Linked DNA regions of Homo sapiens. The protein of the gene in region 1 purifies or fractionates together with the protein of each later gene. This does not show direct contact. Each region holds a gene or a part of one and is shown in the gene's direction. Other genes may lie near its edges.

Evidence for each region.
Region 2: the proteins of AMHR2 (region 1) and KCNN4 purify together in Homo sapiens (affinity purification with mass spectrometry; one large-scale study listed by BioGRID and IntAct). This does not show direct contact.

What each region holds. Positions count from the first base shown.
Region 1 is NC_000012.12:53,429,514-53,432,172, forward strand, and holds the end of AMHR2 (anti-Muellerian hormone type-2 receptor isoform 1 precursor), read left to right. Parts: coding exon 1-112; coding exon of another isoform or gene 113-132; intron 133-317; coding exon 318-465; intron 466-632; coding exon 633-769; intron 770-1,663; coding exon 1,664-1,960; 3' UTR 1,961-2,159; downstream 2,160-2,659. UniProt on the Homo sapiens protein: On ligand binding, forms a receptor complex consisting of two type II and two type I transmembrane serine/threonine kinases.
Region 2 is NC_000019.10:43,770,974-43,774,473, reverse strand, and holds part of KCNN4 (intermediate conductance calcium-activated potassium channel protein 4), read left to right. Parts: coding exon 1-282; intron 283-573; exon of another isoform or gene 574-574; coding exon of another isoform or gene 575-671; exon of another isoform or gene 672-677; coding exon of another isoform or gene 678-688; intron 689-2,338; coding exon 2,339-2,474; intron 2,475-3,500. UniProt on the Homo sapiens protein: Intermediate conductance calcium-activated potassium channel that mediates the voltage-independent transmembrane transfer of potassium across the cell membrane through a constitutive interaction with calmodulin which binds the intracellular calcium allowing its opening.

The sequences.
Region 1 (2,659 bases):
AGATGGATCGTGTGCCATTGGAGACCTGGGCCTTGCCTTGGTGCTCCCTGGCCTCACTCAGCCCCCTGCCTGGACCCCTACTCAACCACAAGGCCCAGCTGCCATCATGGAAGTGAGTTCTCTGGATAACTGGTGAGGCCCAGGATGATGTTGGTGCTGCTGATGGCAATGCAGCCATTGTGTGTCAACAGTTGTAGCAATACCTATAGCATTTGGGACATTGCTGAGTCTGTAGTTGGGGGGATATTGCATGGACCATTGCTGCAATGAGGATTGCCACAGAGATGATTCTTGGCCCTTCGTGCCTTGCTCTCCAGGCTGGCACCCAGAGGTACATGGCACCAGAGCTCTTGGACAAGACTCTGGACCTACAGGATTGGGGCATGGCCCTCCGACGAGCTGATATTTACTCTTTGGCTCTGCTCCTGTGGGAGATACTGAGCCGCTGCCCAGATTTGAGGCCTGGTAAGGATGGGTGGTACAGTCCCCTCTCCTGGGCTCCCCCCCGCCCATTCTAGGTTCACCCCAACCTGACCTGGCCTGAGAAAGCTCTGCTCTTCCCTGTCTTGCCCTTTCTACATGGTAGGCACCCCTAGGACTAACTGATACCCAGCCCCTCTACCTTCCTCCAGACAGCAGTCCACCACCCTTCCAACTGGCCTATGAGGCAGAACTGGGCAATACCCCTACCTCTGATGAGCTATGGGCCTTGGCAGTGCAGGAGAGGAGGCGTCCCTACATCCCATCCACCTGGCGCTGCTTTGCCACAGTAAGAGGCCTAGGCTGTTGGTCTGGGAACCTGGAGAGTGGGGGCTGGGCATGGGCTTCAAGGACGTCTCTGCCAGAGTGTCTGTCTACTCCTATCTCCACTTATCTCCCATCACTCCTTGGTTCATGCTCAGCTGGAACTGGGCAAGCCTCCTCTCCCCGTCAGTTCATCCTCTTCCACCCTAAGTCTCACACAGTCGATTCCATCTACCTGAGACACACACCTTCCTCCTGCTCAACCTTGCCCAGCCTGTCTCTCCTCTCTGCCATCAGTTAGCCCTGTTCCTCAGTCCCCTTCTCCAGGAAGCCCTCCTTGGCTTTGCTCTTGCCCTGAGCTCTGCCCCATCTGCTCTCCTAATACAGTAAAGCCCAAAAATCAATTCAATAAGTCCCCATTCTGTCATACATTGATGATGTTTCTGCTGTGACCCAATAAAAGGCAGTTCTAGGTATAAAAGGTGAAAGCAGTGGCGTCACAGTGAAAGTTCAGGGCTTTGCACAAATACTTTTTTAACAAAATGTCCCTTCTGTACCTGATCTGAAATTTCCACGGCACAAGTCTTAGGTTGGCTGACAGAAACTGGGCATTACTTGCAGAAGACTCTGGCTCTCTGAGAGGAAAGAGAGTAATTTCCCATTAGCATATTAAGCTGTCAACCTACATTAGCTCCTCAGAGGAAACAGTGGGCTATACAGAAGGCCCCCAGAGAGCCTGTTTCATAGGGAGCAAGACTCAGAGGGCTGGAATTCAGCAAGAGGGAGAGGAGGGAGGCTCCAGGAAAGATCAGAAGTGGATGTTGAAAGCAGGAGAGTGATGGACACTGAAGATGGCTTTTAACCCTGGGGCCCACTCAAGATCCTAGGGTCAACCCTTCCTCCCTGTCATTCCCCCCAGGACCCTGATGGGCTGAGGGAGCTCCTAGAAGACTGTTGGGATGCAGACCCAGAAGCACGGCTGACAGCTGAGTGTGTACAGCAGCGCCTGGCTGCCTTGGCCCATCCTCAAGAGAGCCACCCCTTTCCAGAGAGCTGTCCACGTGGCTGCCCACCTCTCTGCCCAGAAGACTGTACTTCAATTCCTGCCCCTACCATCCTCCCCTGTAGGCCTCAGCGGAGTGCCTGCCACTTCAGCGTTCAGCAAGGCCCTTGTTCCAGGAATCCTCAGCCTGCCTGTACCCTTTCTCCTGTGTAAATATGCAGTTTATGTGTCATCAATGTACATGCCAACATAAATATGGCGATTGTATAGCTGTCTTGTCTGCCTCATCACTGCATTTCCCACCTGCCGAATCCTTGGATTCTTCTGCGGGCATCCAGTCCACATCAGTTCTGACCAGTGACTTGGGGTAGGTGTGCACAGGAAAGAGAATAAAGTCAGCTTTCCTGATGCATATCCTTGGTCCTTCCTCTATTCCTGTAATCCAGGGACCCTCTTGTCTCTCTTCTTTTCCACTAACATTTATTTTTATTTATTTATCTGGTTTCTTTTTTTGGAGACAGAGTCTCTGTCCAGTCTGGAGTGCAATGACACGATCACGGCTCACTGCAGCCTTGTCCTCCCTGGGCTCTTGTGATCCTCCTGCCTCAGCCTCCTGAGTAGGAGGGACCACAGGCATGGACCACGATACCCAGCTATTTTTTTTTTTTTTGAGACAGAGTCTCACTCTGTCACCCAGGCTGGAGTGCAGTGGCACAGTCTCGGCTCGGTGCAAGCTCCGCCTCCCGGGTTCACGCCATTCTCCTGCCTCAGCCTCCCGAGCAGCTGGGACTACAGGCGCCCACCACCACACCCGGCTAATTTTTTTTATTTTTAGTAGAGACGGGGTTTCACCCTGTTAGCCAGGATGGTCTCCATCTCCTGACCTTGTGATCTGCCCACCTCGGCCTCCCA
Region 2 (3,500 bases), on another chromosome or scaffold:
GCTGACCTCCCCGCAGCCCTGGCCGGGATTCCTGGGCCAAGGGGAAGCGCTGCTGTCCCTGGCCATGCTGCTGCGTCTCTACCTGGTGCCCCGCGCCGTGCTCCTGCGCAGCGGCGTCCTGCTCAACGCTTCCTACCGCAGCATCGGCGCTCTCAATCAAGTCCGCTTCCGCCACTGGTTCGTGGCCAAGCTTTACATGAACACGCACCCTGGCCGCCTGCTGCTCGGCCTCACGCTTGGCCTCTGGCTGACCACCGCCTGGGTGCTGTCCGTGGCCGAGAGGTGAGGGTGATGGAGGCATAAATGCGCAGGGGGGAACCCCGGACAGCCACGGCGGCCGTCCTGTGCCGCGGTGCAGGTTGAGGCCCCCTAGGACCAAGCAGTGGAGAAAGTTCACACTTTGACCCCTTCTCCTCTTGCTGGCTGAAATTTGCCCACACTCCCATCAACTGGGGTGAGAGGAACCAACAGACAAGCCCCCAGCCAATCCTCCACCTGCAGCCTTCAGTCTCCCCAAACGCACACACAGACCCTAGAAAGCCCCTCCCTTCCGGCTGCCTGACCTCTGCCTCAGGTTTACAGGCCATCTGTTCGGTCTCCGAACCTATCTCTGGGACCTGCCTAAAGGGTTGCCTCTGCCTTGGAGGAAGGAGACATATTTTCCCAATTAGCACGGAATGCACTGTAGGTAGGTGCTTTTTGTGATCCTAGGAAGGGGATGATTTGGAACTGCTCTGGAAAATAATTCCAAGCAGGGAATTGGAACTAGATCCTGGTTGCCAGCTAGATACTGTGTAACCCGATGCCGCGCCTCAATTTCTATCCCTTTCAGAGAAAAACGAGGTTGGGAGTGATCTCAGCCAGTGGTCCTCAAAGTGTGATTTCAAGACCAGCAGCATCACCTGGGAACTTGCAAATGAAAACTCTCAGGTCCCTTCCAGACCTACTGAATCCTGGAGGGTAGGGCCAGCAATCCACTTTAGCAAGCCTTCCAGGTGATTCTATGGCCCAACCAAGGTTGAGAACCTCTGGTCTAGTGTATGTGGCAAAGATCCTTCAGGGCAGGAGGAGAATGAGAAGATCTGGCTTTAGATCTCTCCTCTCTGAGCCTCAGTTTCCTCATCTGAAAAATGCATGTCACGTTCCACCATCTGTAGTCTCCCTGGCAGTTCTTGTTTTTTGATCTGGAGTCTCAATTATCCAGGCTAGCGTGCAGTGGCACAATCTCTGCTCCCTGCAACCTCTGCCTCCCGGCTTCAAGCAATTCTCATGCCTCAGCCTCCCTAGTGGCTGGGATTACGGATGTGCACCACCATGCCTGACTAGTTTTTGTATTTTTAGTAGAGACCACGTTACCGTGTTGCCCAGGCTGGTTTTGAACTCTTGATTTCAAGTGATCCTCCTGCCTAAGCCTCCCAAAGTGCTGGGATTACCATGCCCGCCCTCTGTCATGAGTTTAAACTCCTTCACCTTCCAGGATCTTAGTTTTCACAATTGGGAAATTGGTCAGAATCAGGATTAATGAATGATCCCCCCACCATGTTTCTCAATTGAATGATGGGAGAATGGGGAGGAAGTCAAAGTTCCACATTCCAAGGCAGAAGTCCTGAAACTAGAATGTACTTCGGAATGAGGGGGTGGGGTTTGTGAACAGTACAGATTCCATCTTCGCTCCTAGAAACTCCAACCCGGTGGGTCTGGGGTGTCAGGGGCCCTCATGAATGAAGCTTTCCCTGCTGGTCTTGCGGCAAGGGGCCTGTGGACAAAGTTAGACAAATCTCAATGTTTCAACCCCTTCCATGGCTGGACTTAAATGTCTCCTCTGTGAAGTGAGAGGAAAGGAAGGCCGAGTCCCACCAAGCCTTTTTAGAGTCCTTTTTGGTCCTGATAGGGCCACTTCTGGACCACACAGCATCTTTGTGGAAATTAGAAAAATATACCCCTTCCTCTGGGTGGATGTAGCCACCAGTCAGGGTCTGACTGGGTTTTGGCCCCCTATCGACTCTCCACCCTCAACCACACGCTCTGAATGCTACAGCAGCCCGGGTAGCCTAGCTGAGACCATACCGGCATTGGGATTGGCCAGACCCAGTCTCAAATCCCAGAGTGGCTAAGCAACTTGCCCAGGTCACACAGCAGAGAGGAGGCCATGCAGGCTTTCCAAAGCTCAGAACTTAATGGCTTTTTGTCCAGGTGATTCTTAGGACTATGGGTGTATACTGGGAGGGGAAGGGAGGGAACCAGAGGGAAGGGGATGGGAGGGTATAGAGGGAAGGGGAGTGAATATCATGGAAACCTCTATGGTGGGGTTTTAGAACTAACCTACCCTTCCCCATAGGCAGGCTGTTAATGCCACTGGGCACCTTTCAGACACACTTTGGCTGATCCCCATCACATTCCTGACCATCGGCTATGGTGACGTGGTGCCGGGCACCATGTGGGGCAAGATCGTCTGCCTGTGCACTGGAGTCATGGTGAGTACAGCTGCCTTGGGGACATGATCCCTATCCCAAACTGGTCATCCTCTGGCCCCAGGAAGCCATGATTAAATGGGTTCAACACAGGCTCTCAGGGACAGCTCCTGAGAAACTTGAGTGTCTGGGGCCCCCAGAGCCCCATTCTCTCTTCAAGAACAAGATACTCACCTGTAATCCCAATATTTTGGGAGGCCAAGGTGGGAGGATCACTTGAGCCCAAGAGTTTGAGGGTACAGTGAGCTATGATCATACTGCTGCACTCCAGCCTGGGTGGCAGAGTGAGACCCTGTCTCTTAAAAAATAAAATAAAAAATCAGACCTAGGAATCCAGCCCCTAAGTCCTTGCTCTCTCTAGAACCTAGGGCCCCAGCCCTTATCCTCCTCAGGGACCCAGGCTCCTGACTTCGCAGCCCCATTTTCTTCCAGAACTGGGAAATCGTCTCCCAGCCTCCATCAAGGGTGTAGAGTCCAGTTATCAAGTGCATACCTGTGGGGCCAGGCTACCTGGGTCCGAATCCTGCGGCTGCCACTTCCTGGCTGGGGAGCTCAGGCGAGCCACGTGATCTCTCGGGGCCTCACTTTCCTCATCTATAAAATGGGGATGCTGATGCTCCTCATGGGCTTGCTGAGATGATTAAATGGGTCCAACTACGTAAAGTGCTTCCAACAGTGCCCAGCCCACAGGAGGTGCTCAGTAAACAGGTCTAGGGGTGGCCAGGCATCCAGCCACCCCACACCAGCTCCTGTTGCCCTCAAGGATGAGGCAGAGGCTCTGCAGCCTGAGTCAGCCTCTTCCTGAACCCTGACATCCACCTCCTTCCCTCCATAGACCCAGTCACTCAGGTCCTCCCACCCAGCCCTGGCCCCCTCTAGAGACTAGCACCTAATGCCTTGGCCTTCACCTCCCTACAAGATCGGGTTCCCCTCACCCTCGGGGACCTAAGCCACCAGCACCTAGCCCAGATGTGGGCCTAGGAAGGACATATTCATCCCCCAATCCCTAGGTGCACAGGTGAAGGATGT